Linked DNA regions of Homo sapiens: region 2 is linked to region 1. Evidence: fine-mapped expression QTL. Tissue or cell type: whole blood. Region 1 holds a variant in brackets; the other region holds the start of a gene. All regions are shown on one strand. Distances are between the middles of the regions.

Region 1 (8,108 bases):
GCAGTGGTGTGATCTTGGCTCACTGCATCCTCCGCCCCCTGGGTTCAAGCAGTTCTTCTTTCTCAGCTTCCTGAGTAGCTGAGATTACAGGCATGCACTACCACACCCAGCTAATTATTGTATTTTTAGTAGAGACTGGGTTTCACCATGATGGTCAGGCTGGTCTCAAACTCCTGACCTCAAGTGATCCACCCTCCTTGGCCTCCCAAAGTGCTGGAATTACAGGCGTGAGCCACTGCGCCTGGCTAAATATTGACTTTGGCTTCACAAAGTGAGTAAGTGGGGGACAGACACATTCTGGGCAGCATGTGCAAAGGTATAGAAGTATAAAAGGGTATTATTGCTGAAGAACTCTTAAGTAATTTTATGTTCTTATAAGTAAATAGGTGTAGTGGGAGATGAGACAAGAAAGACAGGCTGGATCCAGACTGTAAATGGCTTTGTGTGTTATACCAAAGGATTTGTATTTTAACCTGGAAAGCATAAATAGCCAATTGAGATTTTTAGGTAGAGGTATGACATGAAGACTCTTGGAGCTTTTTGAAGAACTAAAATGAATATTGACTTTCTGCTATGGTTTGAATGTGTCCCCCCAATTTTTTGTATTGGAAACTTAATCCCAACGCAACACTGTTGGGAGGTGGGGCATTTTAGAGGTACTTAGGTCACAAGGGCTCTGCTTTCGTGAATGGATTAATGCCATTATAAGAGGGCTTGACAGAGGGAGTTTGTTCCTTTTTTCCTTTCTGTCATGTCAGAATAAAGTGTTCCTCCTCCTTGGAGGATGTAGCATTTAAGGCACCATCTTGGAAGCAGAGAGATTAGGCCCTACCAAACTGCCAGTACCTTGATCTTGGACTTCCCAGCCTCCGGAACTGTGAGAAATACATTTCTGTTTTTTATAAACTACCCAGACTATGATATTTATTCTAGCAGCACAAATAGACTAAGACACATTCTGAGATTGAAAGATCAGAACCTTTTCAAGGACTATTGGGTGGAGAAGATTAATCATAATGGATTAAAAAGCCAGTGTAAAGAAAGGGAGAGATTGTTTAGCTTTATGCTGTTTGTAAGAGATTACCTAAAACATAAGGACACAGAAAAATTGAAAGCAGACTGGATGCGGAGGCTAACACCTGTAATCCTAGCACTTTGTGGGGCCGAGATAGGTGGATCACTTGAGCTCATGAGTTCAGGACCAGCCCGGGCAACATGGTGAAACCCCATCTCTACAAAAAATATAAAAATTAGCCTGGTGTGGTGGCACACGCCTGGAGTCCCAGCTACTCAGGAGGTTAAGGTGAAAGGGATTGCTTGAGCCTAGGAGGCAGAGATTACAGTGAGCCAAGATTGTGCCATTGCACTCCAGCCTGAGTGACAGAGGAAGATTGTGTCTCAAAAAAGAGAAAAAAAGAATGGAAAGAAATGTTTCAGATAAATACTCACCAAAGCAAAGTTGATATTACTATATTAGGATCACACAGAATAGACTTCAGTGCAACAAGCATTACCAACATTAAAATGACTCATATAATGTTTAACACTTAACCAAGAAGATATAAAGACTCTAAACCAGCAAGATATAAAGACTCTAAACTTATATGTATCTAATAATTTAGTCCCAAAATACATAAGAAAAATAACACAATTTCAAGGAGAAAAGAACAAATCTGTAGTCATATGGGGAAAATTCTTTATACATTTATCAGGAATTGTTAAGTAACAAAAAATTAAGGCTTGAAGTGTTGAATAAGACAATTAATATTCTTGATCTAATGGATGTGTATATGGAACCATGTAGTCAACAGTTTGAAATTGACATTCTTTCAAGCAGATGTAATCTGTTACCTCACTATGCTAGAAAGCATGAATTTGAACAAATTCCAAAAGATTGATGTCGTATGTATTATCTTCTGCAACCACAGTTCAGTTAAGTTAGAATATAACTCCTTGAAATCCTGTATGTTTGGAAATGTAAAACCAGGCTTACTGGTGTTCATTGACCTACTGGTGTTCATTGACCATTGAATAAATTAGAAAACCTTTAGAACTGAGTGATATAAAAAATGCACATCACTGCATGTAGGCTGTACCTAAAGACACTCTTAGAGGAAAAAATTTAACCTTATATACATGTATTATATCATGACTGAAAATTAATGAACTGAAATAGACTATTGTGTGGTCAGGAAAAGGAGGACATCAGAAGAAAGAATGAACATCAAAAGAAAATAGAAGTAAGGAAATAATAAAGATAAGGATGAAATGGATGAATAGAAAACAGTGAAACAATATAAAGGATTACCAAAACCTAAATGTGGTTATTTTCACAATGAACAAGAAAATGGGCATCAGACAAGATTAATAAAGGAGAAAAGGCACAAGTGTTGGGATTGGCAAGGGACTCCCAAATTACAGATTTAGCTATAAATCGGTAAGCAATAAGAAATATATAAGAAATAAGGCCAATAACTGAATCATTTTAAAGATGATACATTTGAAAACTTAGACTAAATAAAATTCTCAGCAAAATAAAATTTAACAAAACTAACTTTAAAATAAATGAAAAACCTGAATAAATATATGTGTGTGTGTGTGTACATATATATGTGTGTGTGTATATATATAGCTATTAGGGTTATCAAATCAGTAATTAAAAATCTGCCCACAAATAACTAAACTAGTCAAAACAATGGTGACAAAAGGAAAGGAAACATCAGGCCCACTACAGCCCATGATGACTAAAATGGAAAAGACTCTCAAAAACAAGTTATGGCAAGGATGTGGAATTGAAACTCTCCTGCATTTCTTTTCTTTTCTTTTTTTTTTTTTTTTTTTTTTTTGAGACAGAGTCTCGCTCTGTCGCCCAGGCTGGAGTGCAGTGGCGCGATCTCGGCTCACTGCAAGCTCCACCTCCTGGGTTCATGCCATTCTCTTGCTTCAGCCTCTCTAGTAGCTGGGACTACAGGCGCCCACCACCATGCCTGGCTAATTTTTTGTATTTTTAGTAGAGACGGGGTTTCTCCATGTTAGCCAGGATGATCTCAATCTCCTGACCTCGTGATCCGCCCGCCTTGGCCTCCCAAAGTGCTGGGATTACAGGTGTGAGCCACCGCGCCCGGCCCACTCTCCTGCATTTCTAATGGAAGTGTAAATTGGTAGAACCACTTTGGAAAACTGTTTGTCAGTAGCTGCTAAAGGTAAACATAAGCCTGCCTTATGATCCAGCATTCATTTCAACAAAACTTAGTCCCTGTATTAAAAGACATGTACAAGAATGTTAGAGTAATTTTATTCATTGTTAAATGTTCATCAACAGTGTAATCTATAAACTGTGGTATGTTCACATAATTATACACATCAGTAAAAAAGAGCAACTACAACTATGTAACAACATGGATTATTATCACACATATAATGCTCAGCAGAAGAAGCCAGACACAGTAGAATACTGTATAATTCCATAGCAAATCAAGGATAGGCAAAATTAACATATGTTGTTAAAAGTCCAAATGGTGCTTACCTTTTTGGGGTAAAGAATATTCACTGGGAAGGTACACAGGGGTGCTGGAAGTGTTCTCTATTTGATTGGGTTAGTAGTTAAGTAAGTATACACATTATTATAAACTTCTCTCATTTAGGATTTCTGTACTTTACTCAATAAAAAATTAAAATCAAATAAGAAAAACTATAAGAAAAAATCTACAGAAGATATGTATAGTCTTAATTTTTTTTTAAAGAAATATGGTATTGCTTTGTTACCCAGGCTGGAGTGCAATGCTGTGGTCATGGCTCACAGTAGCTCCCAACTACTGGGCTCAAGTGATCCTCCCACTTCAGGCTCGCAGATAGTTAGGACTACAGGCTTGCCCCACCACACCCGACTAATTTTTAAATTTTTTTTACACATGGGTCTCACTGTGTTGCCCAGGCTGGTCTTGAACTCCTGGGTTCAAGTGGTCCTCTTGCTTTGGCCTCCTAAAGTGCAAGTATTATAGGCATGAGCCACTGTGCCTGGCTTTAATGCATGTTTTAAAATGTATTTGGGGTTTGTTTTAATCAGGTATGGTAAGATACAGACACAGGACTGACATGGAGAAAGAAATTTTTATACTTACAGATTTCTAGAAGTAGGAGGGGCACAATATGCTGTTTTGGGATCCTTGGGGTGTTGCTTCACGAGCCAGAAACCTCTGTGGCCAGTGGCACCTTTGCCCGAGTTTTACTCTGGCCCAGTGGGCTCATTCTGCCCACTCAGCCTGGCAGGCTGCGCTTGGCTCGTGCTACCACCCTGGATCCCACACCTGCCAAGGGTGAGCTAGGTGCAGAATGGCAAGGGGTGTGTGAACGACCATAGGGTCCAGCCACTATACATAGCCAGGCATGCCGGCTGTGGTGGTGTGAGCAGCTCCAGGCGCCAGCACGGGCGCCAGCTCCCTGTGAGGCTGTGGCTGGACCAGGTATAGCATAAGCAGCTTCTGTGGCTGACACCAGGGAACGGGGTGGTACTGGAAGCTTGGAGACACCAGGAACCACAGAGCCCTAAAGAGGGTGTCACAGCCCTGGCTCGGGAAGCTCATAGGTCTGGGCTCCCCTGAAGGGCTGTAGCTCTTCTCTCCTTCTCTTGTCTTTTCTTCTTGTTGCCTGCAACGTAGTGAGCAGGGGGC[G/A]TGTTTCAGCCATTTGTGTTACAGCATTTTAAGCCCCACCATTCAGTGGGTCCTGAGTTCTTGTCCTGCATCCAGGAAGAATGAGGTAAGCAAACAAGTGGAGGGTGAGCAAGAGAAGCTCTGTTGAGCGACAGAACAGCTCAGAGGAGACCCACAGTGGGTAGCTCCTCTGAATGGCTACCCCCACCTCATTTGCGTTCTGGTACATGTGGACACAGTCAATGCAGCAGTACCCGATGTCAATTGCCACCTTCACAGCTTCAGTTACCTGGCCCAAGGGGGACTTGCAGGTGCCCAGCCCCAGTATGAGCATCTAGGTGCTGTTGTTGAGCATGAGGTAGCTGGCCGTGGCTGCTGCACTTTACAGACCCCCACCTGGAACTGTCTTATTTTATTTTATTTTTTTTTAGAGATAGGGTCTTGCTCTGTCACCCAGGCTAGAATGCAGTGTTGCGATCATGGCTCACTGCAGCCTCAAACCCCTGCGTTCAAGGGATCCTCCTGCCTCAGCCTCTAGAGTAGCTGGGACTACAGGTGTGCACCACCATGCCCAGTTAACTTTTTGTAGAGACGATCTCACTACGTTTCCCAGGCTGGTCTCTAACATCTGGCTTCAAGCAATCCTCCTGGCTCAGCCTTCTAAACTGTTTGGAATACAGGCGTGAACCACCACACCCAGCACATAACAATTTTAGAGATGTTAAAAATGTGAAAACATGGTAAGACTATAGGAGATTATTTAAAAAAAAAAAAAAAGCGAGAACAGGCTGGACACAGTGACTCACTCCAGTAATCCAAGCACTTGGGGAGGCCAAAGTGCGAGTATTACTTGAGGCCAGGAATTCAAGACCAGCCCGGGCAAAATAGCAAGACCCCACACACACAACAAAAAGTGAAAACAATGTGTCTCTTAGAATAGATGAACTGTGATATATACTATTTGTGGGTGTAGGTTAACATGAATGTACAAAATAAAAAACACCAAAATCAGGATAGGGTTACCTCTGTTGGAAGAAGTCAGGGGAATGGGATTTGGAAGGGACACATAAGGACCTCAACTTTATTTGTAATATTTTGTTTGTCTTCTGTAGCCTTTTCAGACAAAGAGTGAAGATTCATTAAAACGTGATTGGGAGTACATGGTAATATTTATCCAGACTTTTTGATGTGGCTGAAATATGTCATTACTTTTTACAAATTGGAAGTGAGGAAGAGTAGATAAGTGTAAAGCGGATAAGTCTGGCTTGAAAAGAAGGATAATAGAGGAAAGCACAATACGTGGGAAGGTTTTTGTTTGTTTAAGTGAGAAATACAGGTATCCTTTGATCTGAACAGTACCTGTGCACACTCAGGAATTGATTATATTCCTACAGATTTTCAGAGAAGTCCTTTGTTGTCCTTACTTTCCTTTATCTGAAACTTTGGAGTCAAATAGACGTACTTAACCACATAGACTCAGAAAGTTAGGAGTACTTTTACTTGAACTTGTTTATACTTGTGGCAAAATAACCAACAGAGAGAATGAAAATACAGAAGCTAGAGTGTATTTCTGAAGGGTTAAGAGTTAAGATCTAGACTATAAATAGAGTAATTCACCCTGGATAAGAGGAGGGTCACTAACCTCACTTACATTAGAAAGAATATGATGGGAATAGGTTTAAATATTAAAATATTTTTAGGTGTGAGAGTGATATTGACCAAATATTCTCAATGTATTGTGCCCCAAATTTTCATTTCATTGCAAGAAGCATAAGGAACTAAGAGATGAGGCAACAAGGTTCGGCTTAAAGAGTGGTTGGTGGTGGTTGTGTTTTTTGTTGTCTAGATTTTTATATCTGGTATCAATAGAAGTTACCATTTTTTGAAATAACTATTTGAAATTTATTTGACCTTTGCAAAGGTCACAGAATTTACTGAGTATATTTAATATTCTAGACAATAGACTGATTCTGTAATACCTAACCTTTGAAAATGTATCATCCAGCCTCAGGCTATTTCCCTAATCTGTCTTTTCCAGATAGGGAAAAAAAAAATTGCCAACACATAAGAATTTATATATATTTCGACATTTATGTTTATTATTGTTTTGTGTTTTATTTTTCATATTGATAGAGTGAGAAAATTTTTGTAGTATGATCTACATTCTTCATTTTATACTTTAAGCCTAATACTCCTTTTTAGTGCAGAGAAATTTGTTTCTCTCCAATTATTCCTTATAATTAAAGATTACTTTGGAACTTAACTCTTCAAATGCAGAGCATTCTTCACTTTTATTCATTATCTCTTTTTAAATTTTAGAGCTGAACGACAAAGGAATGAAGCACTATATAATGCCGAAGAGCTGAGTAAAGCTTTCCAACAATATAAAAAAAAAGTGGCTGAAAAACTGGAAAAGGTAAAAGGCAGTTGTGCAAATTCAGTGTTTTGTATTACTGTCTATATTCCAACAGTAAAGGTAGGAATAATTAAAATATGTTTATGGTTGAGACAGAGAGTAATTTTTATGATCTTACAAAATCATTTAAATAAACAATTTGTAAATGTTAGTTAAGGATGATGTTCACCAACCCTTTTATTATCAGGAGAAACTTTTTTATCCAAAGAGGGAAAAGAGTAGAGAGAGGAGAAGGAACAAAATACAGAGAAGGATGGAATGTGTTAACAGAGACTGGAGCTAAAGAAGTAGAAAAAAGAAATTCATTTTTATCACTTCAATGAAAATGAAGATAGATTATGTAGCTTTCAACTGGTCTCCCTCAGTCTGCTACTCTGAGAGGGGCTTGCTTCTGCCTCTCGGAAGGTTCCTTGAACTGATTTGATATAGAAATAATAGTGAGTTTATTACATTCATTTATTATATTCATTTATTATCTTTAAGTAATATCACATGGTAATGAAATGTGTATGGAGGAACACCACAGTTGGATATTCAGATATTGAGCTCAAAAGAGAGGTCTGGTAAAGAGATACTAATATGGGAGACTTCCATCTTGAGATAGCAATGAAAGCAGAGGAAGTTTATGATTCTGATCCAAGAAAGGTAGAAAGGCAGAGGAAGGAATGTTCAGGTAGAAGGGTAGAGTAAGAAGATGGGTGTTCATTTATTAAACAATCATGAAATTCCTTTTACATGCCAGGTACTGTGCTAGTCTCTGGGAGATTCGGTGATACATAACACATGATACCTATCCTAAAGAGCTCACTGTCTAGTAAGATTGACAAGTATGTAAACAAATAATTTCAGTATTTTGGAATAAGTATAATATAGAAATAAGAGGTAGGTGTGGTAGGGTGGGTGAAGGTGGCAGTGGTTAATAAACTCTGGTGGGCCCAAAGAAGGCTTCACAGAGTAGGCAATGCTTGAGCTGCTAGGCTATCTCAAAGATTGTGATATATCTTTGAACAGTGTTAACCAGGGAAAATGATCAAAATCTATGT
Region 2 (8,108 bases), 150 kb after region 1:
ACCATCATTGTCCCCACCTCCATTATTATTTAGGCACGGTCCTCGTATCTCACGGTAGATGCAGGCAGAAGCTAAATCCTGTAAATTCTGTTTCCAAATGCCTCTAATTTGTTTCTTTTATCTTATTATCACCAAACTTTCTTTGTTCAGGTCTACATCATTACTATTTTTACAATAGCTTAATAATTAATGTTCTTGTCTCTGTCCATTCCAGACCATCTCACATGCGAACTCAAACTAATCTTTTTAAACATTATTGTTTATGTCATCCCCCTTCTCAAAAATGTTCACTAACTCTTTCCACTGCTTACAAAAGGATCTCCAGACTTCTTAAAATGATGTGGAAAGACTTGAGACTTTGTAGTCAGAAAGCTTGGGTTGCATTTCCAATCTGCCACTTATTCACTCTGTGACCTTGAATAATCTCACTGGGCTTCAATTTTCCCATCCATCAATTGGGATTAATGACTAGTTATAAAGACCAAATACATGTGAAAGTGCTTTATATTTTTAAAGTCCTATAATGAATATAACCTTTTTTCCTTTTTTTTTTTAATTTAGAGATAGTTACCAAATTACAAATAGCTTCAGCTTTGGAGTTAAGTAACAACCTGGTTTGAAATTTCAGCTCCATTACTTATTATCTGTGAGACTTTGAACAAATTAGTAAAACTCTCTGAGACTGTTTTCCCCCCATGTCAAAACACCTATTTTGCATGGCTATATGGAAATTAAATGAAATAGCAAATATGAAAAACTTTTGGCCCAGTGTATAATTCATATCAGGCACTGATCTGTTTTCTTTTTGCCCTAACCTACTTTTCCTGCATCATATACCACTACACCTCTTTACAAACCTTATTAATAGAGCCACTCTAGACTACTTTATTTCCCCAAGCCATACAATGTACTTTTGTGTTTTTTCTTCAGCTACATGCTCTTTCCTTCCCTATCAAAATTGTACTCAATCTTCAAGGTGCAGTTAAAATATCCAGTCCTCCATAAAACCCTTTGTACTCCACAACTAGTGTGTTAATCACTTCTTCCCATGCATTCTTAGCCTGTATATTTTATCACAATATTTATTTGAATCTGGTTTATATTCTGCTTCTCCCACCAGATTATAGGGTCTTCAAGAACAAGGTGGGAGTTATATTCATCTTTATTTCTCCCACATCATAGTCAGGACACTAGACAGTTATTGAATGAATGTAGAAATCAGATGCTGTCTTCTCTTTCCACTTTCTATAGGACACCACTTCTACAAATGCCTGCCCAAACATGTGCAAAAGCAAGCACATCTTCTCTAAACAGCTCCCTTTCAACTCCACTGTTTTTGACAGTGACACTCCCCTAACCCTACTCTGAGGCTAAACTTTTTTTTTCCTTTTCTTGAGGCAGGGTCTCACTCTGTCACCTAGGCTGGAGTGTAGTAGTGTCATGGCTCACTGCAGCCTCAGCCTCCTGGGCTCAAGTGATCCTGCCACCTCAGCCTCCCAAGTAGGTAGGATCACAGGTGTGCACTACCACACCTAGACAACATGAAAAAAAAAAGTTTCATATATATGCATTCTCTCTGAAACTCTTAAAGCTTAATAAGGAGATGTTCTCTTTGTCCTTAAAAGCCTATTTATAATACAGATACATGTAGTGTACTATAAATAACTATTTAAATATGGGCTACAGATTAGCATATTTTATGACATATCACACTGGTATTTATATCCAATTAAATTTCTCTCAGCCACGTATGTAATAAACTAGTTACATGGTTCATTACTAGTTGAAGACTGACCAAGCCTGATAAAGATGATAAAAGACACTAACATTATATAACACTTCATACTATAAAAAGTACTTTCACACAACTCTCATTTGATTTTGAATCCTGTGTGTTACATAATATTTCTATATCTGAACTGAAGAAAATGAGGCTTGGAGAGTGACTTGTCTAAGTAAAAAAAAAAGCTGGGACTGGAACCTACAACTCTTACTACACATTCAATTCTGTTTATGCTACCACAGAAGCCTGTAGCAATAAACTATTACTGAAATAATGTGTGCTCTACTCGTCTATTTAGCATAAGTCTATAAACATAAATGTTACATGAAAAAGCAAAGTTATAGTTTTTTCAGGAGAGACAAGATAAGGGTCAGTGACACTGTGACAACTTGGGACATTTTTTGCCAGCCAGCTTTTTCAGACGGATAAACTTGTTAAGGTCAAGATAAATTTAGGCACCATAATAAATCTTTAAATCAACAGTAAACTGACAAAAAAAAACAAACCCACCACTTCATAAAGTATTTTTTTTTTTTTGAGATAGAGTCGTGCTCTGTCTCCCAGGCTGGAGTGTAGTGGTACGATCTTGGCTCACTACAAGTTTTGCCTCCAGAGTTCAAGCGATTCTCCTGTCTCAGCCTCCCAAGTAACTGGGATTACAGGTGCCCACCACCACACCCAGCTAATTTTTGTATTTTTAGAAGAGGTGAGGTTTCACCATGTTGGCCAGGCTGGTCTCGAACTCCTGAGCTTAAGTGATCCGCCCCCCTTGGCCTCTCAAAAGTGCTGGTATTACAAGCATGAGCCACCATGCCCAGCCTGAAGAAAATTTAATTAAAATACTGTTTTTAATCAAAGAAATTTTGTTTTGACTAAATTTAGTAGCACTGAAAAACAAGTGTCTACACTTCAGAAATTAAAGAACCAGTAAGTTGTCCTGCAGAAAATGCTAAATGAAAAAATAGCATAATAAACTGTAATGTCTTCTTGAGAGCAGCATATAGGGCTCAGACAGAACGTTTTAAGAAAACACTGTCAACAAGCCAGTTGCCATCATATGTATCAAGAGTAATGAATCTGATGAACCAAAGTGACAAAATGGATTTCAACAGTGTCTTGTTTAGTTTTTAGAAATTCCAACATCCCACTATTTATAGTATAGCCTCTTCTTCCACATGACAGTATGACAGACTCAGTTTTTTTACTTTTTTTTTTTTTTTATCTTTTTTGAGACAAAGAATCTTGTTCTGTCACCCAGGCTGGAAGTGCAGTGGCACAACCGCAACTCACTGCAGCCTTGACCCCCTGGCTCAATCGATCCTCCCACCTCGCCCTCCAGAGTAGCCGGGACTACGGGTGCCTGCCACCAAGCCTGGTGAAAAAAAAACCCGTGTTTCATATTGTCATATAGAAGAGGCTATACTATAAACAGTGGGATGTTGGAATATATATTTATATATATAAATATATATTATATATATATATATATATATTTTTTTTTTTTGTAGGGACGGGTCTCACTATGTTGCCCAGGCGGGTCTTGAACTCCTGGGCTCATGTGATCCCCCTGCCTCAGCCTCCCAAAGTGTTGGGTTTACAGGTATGATGAGCCACAACGCCTGGCTGACACACTTTTTTTTTTTTTAAATGCAATTTCTGTTTAGACCTTGACACCTGTTGATATTACTAGTCACTATGGAAAGAAGTAAAAACAGTTGCTTAAGATGCTCTAACACTTTTTTCCCCTGTAGAAGCCAACATGGAATACAACATGAAAACTGTCTAAATGGGAACCTTCTAATATAGCTCATTGTATGCCATGCATTTCCACTCCATTTCCACTATGTTGGAACTGACTTCTGCTTTCCTACTTAGCCATTAGGCGACTTAGTTGCCTCTAGGCAAGTAACTTCTCTGAAATGTTTCATTTTTCATGAAGTTTAAAAAAAAAAAGGTGAAGGACTTTAGAGAGCTTTGAACCGAATAAGGTCTATCAGACATCTTGAAAAGCTTTTTCTCCAGACGACGCAGAAACAGGCACACGGGGTTCTGCTTTCCCCACCTCCCACCCCCAAGCCCAGGTCCCATTCTTCTCACTTTCAATCCTCATTTGGGCTCCTAAAGGAATAGCAAAGAGAGTTATTTTATCAATACCAGCGCTCCTCTGTCCCCAAATCCAGCTAGGGAAGGTTTCGGAGGCCTCAGCTACTTGAGAGAGGGTAGAGACGATCCTTCCTCGCCTATCTACCCAGCCACCCACCCCTTCCCAGATGTAGCGTCCGGGCCCCAGACCAAGCGCGTGCTTGGAGCTCTCCGGTACAGTGAGGCGCGCGCTTGCCTGGCTAGGGTCCCTGTGAAGGAATGGGATCCCGAGGTGCTTGCCAGGACCGTAGCAGGCGGAAGCTGCTGGCAGCGCGAACGGGCGGCTCCCGCCGGCGTGGGTGGGGGAAGGGCGGCAGCCACACCCGGAAGTCGGTCCGGGAGGGAGGGGGAAATCTGAGGGAACGAGGCTTCCGGTGGCGCAAAGGGTGTCGGGAGCGGCTTCCTGCAAACCTTCCCTGGCATCTGGAGGGACCACCGTTGCCGCGTCTTCGGCTTCCACGATCTGCGTTCGGGCTACGCGGCCACGGCGGCAGCCACTGCGACTCCCACTGTGCCTGGCTCTGTCCATATTAGTTCCCAGGCGGCCGTCGCCGTTCCAGCAGCGGCAGCGGCAGCGGCAGCGGCGGACATGTTGTGAGGCGGCGGCGCGGGTGTCTGAAGGATGGTTTGGCCGAGGCGGCGGCAACGGCTGCTGGCGGCGGCGGCAGCGGCAGCGGGGCCTCGGGCTCTATAGAGCCGAGCCCGCTGGGTACCCGCCCGGTACCGCGGCGAGGCCAGTGCCCCTGGATCTTGCCTCTGCTCCGACGCCGTTGGGGACCAGTTAGGCGACAGCGCCCGCCCCTCTGAGGAGACACGAAGGTGGTTCCCCAGCCGCTCAAATTTCCGGACCACCGCGCTTTCCCCTCCTCAGCCTGGGCTGTGCTCTCTCTAGAATCCTCGGGCCCCCACTTTCTTCCCAAACTCATCCTAAATCTCTCACACACGCGAGTGTTCCCAGCCCTCAAGCCAGCTGCTCCTCCGTTCATTTTCTGCACCCTCTTCGCAAAGCACCCCCCGGGATCACTCTCCGAGGGCGACTTTTTGAGAAATCTCGGTGGAGTAGTGGACCAGAGCTGGGGAGTTTTTAAAAGCCGGGGCGCGAGAAACAGGAAGGTACTATGGCTTCCTCGTCTGGCAACGATGATGATCTCACTATCCCCAGAGCTGCTATCAATAAAATGATCAAAGAGACTCTTCCTAATGTCCGGGTGGCCAACGATGCTCGAGAGCTGGTGGTGAACTGCTGCACTGAATTCATTCACCTTATATCTTCTGAAGCCAATGAGATTTGTAACAAATCGGAAAAGAAGACCATCTCACCAGAGCATGTCATACAAGGTAAGTCGTGTGTGAGAGCTGGTTTGAATGAGGTTCTAGGGTAGCAGTCTGCTAATCGCGTGACCCTTTCGTGTCAAAGCCTCCATTCCTCTTCCCTGGTAAGTAACTTAATGAAAAAGCCAGACTGGCATGTAGGCAGCCGGTGCTTTAAAAACAATCCCTTTGTAGCATTTTTGCAGTACTTTTCATCCAGCGAATACATGTAAGGAGTGCAAACATTTAGGTCAGCGTCCCCAAAACGTAAAGAATAAGAGTGATCTCACTTTACAGCCAGGTAAGCCGAAGCAACAAGAATTACTTGCCTGAAGTTGAACTTAGATAATAATTAAGGAACGCAGAAATTCTCCTTTGGAAAGTTAAAATTCAGACGGAGGAACTTCAACGTGGGTGGAGACAGAGCACCCCCTTCCCCACCTGACCTTTCACCAATGTAGAGGAAAAGATTTATTTTCTGAACACATGAGTTAAAAAATTCTTAACATACAATGTGTTCAACGTTGTCAAGTTTATCGTTGTTAAATAAAAGGTGTATGTTTTCTGCTCTAAAAATGGTTTGATGGTACGTTCATGAATGAGTTACCAAATAACTCCTGTTCCATTCTGTAAGAATAGGGTGAACTTTAAATTTTCGTTTTTTTCTTTTCGTTTGCTTTTATGTCGTTTGCTTTGTTCTATTCTGTGGAGATAAGTTTTGAAATCTTTGATTGAAAGTTTATGCAAGTTTTTTTTTTAACGGAAAATTTCCCCGTCCTTTCCTGCTGTCATTCCTATTTGAATGTATACACTTAGGCTTTTATGGAACAGCACTTCTGAAAACTTCAACAGTTTCTTTTATCCTGGAAAGGATTTGGTCCCGTAATAGGGATTTGGGGGACTGTATTCTGGTGGTTTCAGAGAGGAGAAACATATTTACTATTCATAATGTTTCGGGAACGTACCTTTTGCGATATTTTTACATGTACTCTTGTGAAAGAGTTGTACTCAATTTGAGGTGAGAACTTGCCTTTTGTAATAATCTAATTAAAGTTATTGATTGCTTGTGAAATCAGGGAAAAATGATTAATTTTAATCATTTTGATAGGCAGGTGGTTGTCTATCACTTAATTTTTATAATTTAACTTTTTAAAATGTGACTTTCCTGTTGTACTGAAGTAGAGAACACATCTGCTTATATTGACCATATCCAATATTTTACTCTCAGTATTGACAAAAGGATTAAATGATTCATTTTTAATCCTTTATGACGTCTTGAAAGTAGTTTTAAAATATATCCTGCCATTTCAGTACACAAGCAGAAAAATCCCTAGGAAAAAGCATATTTGATTCTTAAAACTAGTACTAGTTTTTTTTTTTTCTACTTGTTTGGTGTGCTGAATACTCTAGCAAGTAAAATGAAAGCCAAGTTGTCTATTTTTTCCCTTGTGTATTTATTTTTACATTGTATGTGTGATTGCTGTCATAAGTCTTTCACAAGATTATCCAGCACAGATAGCTATAATTTCTTTTTACAACTCTTAAAAAGGAAAAAGAACCTTTATCAACATTGCCTTTCTAATGAAAATTGCAAAAGATTTCAGCAGGGTCTGCCTAAACATTTGTTTACACTACAGAAGTGGGGATCGTTCCAAAAACCTAATAACACATTACAGTCTGTCTTCTTGGGGAGAGTTGATTCTTTTCTAGGATATATTTAGATTTCTGATTGACATGATGGAATAGAAGTGCAGCTGTAGCAAGCAGTATGCTAAATAATTCAACTTTGGAATATGCTAAATTCAGTTTAATGTGTGAGTCAGAAAGCTATAGTGAAAAAGCATTTCCATTGTGTAATGAAGATGATTTGTTTTTAAAAATCATGTATTGACGTGTTACCTTAAATTTAAAAATTTACCTTTTTTTCTTGTATTATGCTATTCTTAAAAGTGGTTAAGAATCTACATTTTCGCCCAAGAATTCTCCCTAGTTGGGGTTGTAGACTTTATACATTTATAATCTCATATTGCTTAATTATTCCAAAGAAGTTTTGTTTTGAGAGATTACATTTTTAAAGAAATTCTTAAGGTTTATATGTTTTAGGTGTTTGAAGTGTGTGCCTATACACTAATCATAATAGGACATTTTTATACTTTTCTGTCAGCATTGATTAGGAATGTAGAATATATCCAAATGGAATAAGTAATGTACATTTTAAAGTGATATGATTCTCACATGTTGAAGTTTGGGTTTTTAGTGATAAGTTTAATGAATTAGACTTTGCTTCAGGACATTTCACTTGTTCATTTCTCACCTTGCTTTATCTTGTCTGAGCAAATTAAGCATTCTGAGATAGTTCTGTAAAATGCAAGTTAAAGTTGAACTAATTTTATCACCAGTATATCTATGAAATAACTTATTTAAAAAAATTTTTTTTTCTGTTTTGCTTATTTTGAGTTTAAGAAAGTAGACTTGGTATTGAAGACCATAGATACATGAATAGAGGGAGTTCTAAGCTATAAAAGGTGTTCCTATTTTGTTGCAGTTTTTTGTGAACACGTATTCTTGAATGAGTTCTAACATGTTCTGTTGCCTTATAGAAAGAATTGACATTGAGAGTCAGCTGTAAGTTCCGCACTGAGAATTCTTTAACCTTAGGGAAATCTTTTAACTAAGGTTTTCTTATTTGTGTACAAATAATACTTGATTTCAGGTATTACTTGTAATTTTTGAGAATTAGTCAGGGGTTGAGAACCTTACATGAAATATCTCCCCTCACATTTATGAGAATTGTAACTGAAAGTAGTAAAAGTTTGAAAGAGTATCTGAGAATTTGCGTCTTCAGCTGTTGAGTTGCTCCAAGCTGTCTTAC

The links. PIP is the estimated chance that this variant, and not a neighbour inherited with it, causes the effect.
Region 2: it holds the start of CCDC18-AS1, and the variant in region 1 is fine-mapped to the expression of CCDC18-AS1 in whole blood (TOPMed, PIP above 0.99).

Annotation. Positions count from the first base shown.
Region 1 is chr1:93,194,924-93,203,031 of GRCh38, forward strand. CCDC18 (coiled-coil domain containing 18) reads left to right here. Exons shown (of 29, transcript NM_001378204.1): 7 at 6,969-7,065. Among named protein-coding and RNA genes, the nearest start is that of CCDC18, 18 kb to the left of the region's middle. The variant G/A (reference allele first, on the strand shown) is at 4,671.
Region 2 is chr1:93,341,603-93,349,710 of GRCh38, forward strand. It overlaps CCDC18-AS1 (CCDC18 antisense RNA 1), which reads right to left and starts at 4,209. Exons shown (of 9, transcript NR_034089.1): 1 at 4,122-4,209. DR1 (down-regulator of transcription 1) reads left to right here and starts at 4,305. Exons shown (of 3, transcript NM_001938.3): 1 at 4,305-5,263. The coding sequence starts at 5,044. RefSeq lists enhancers at 3,900-4,435, 4,805-4,874, 4,935-5,144.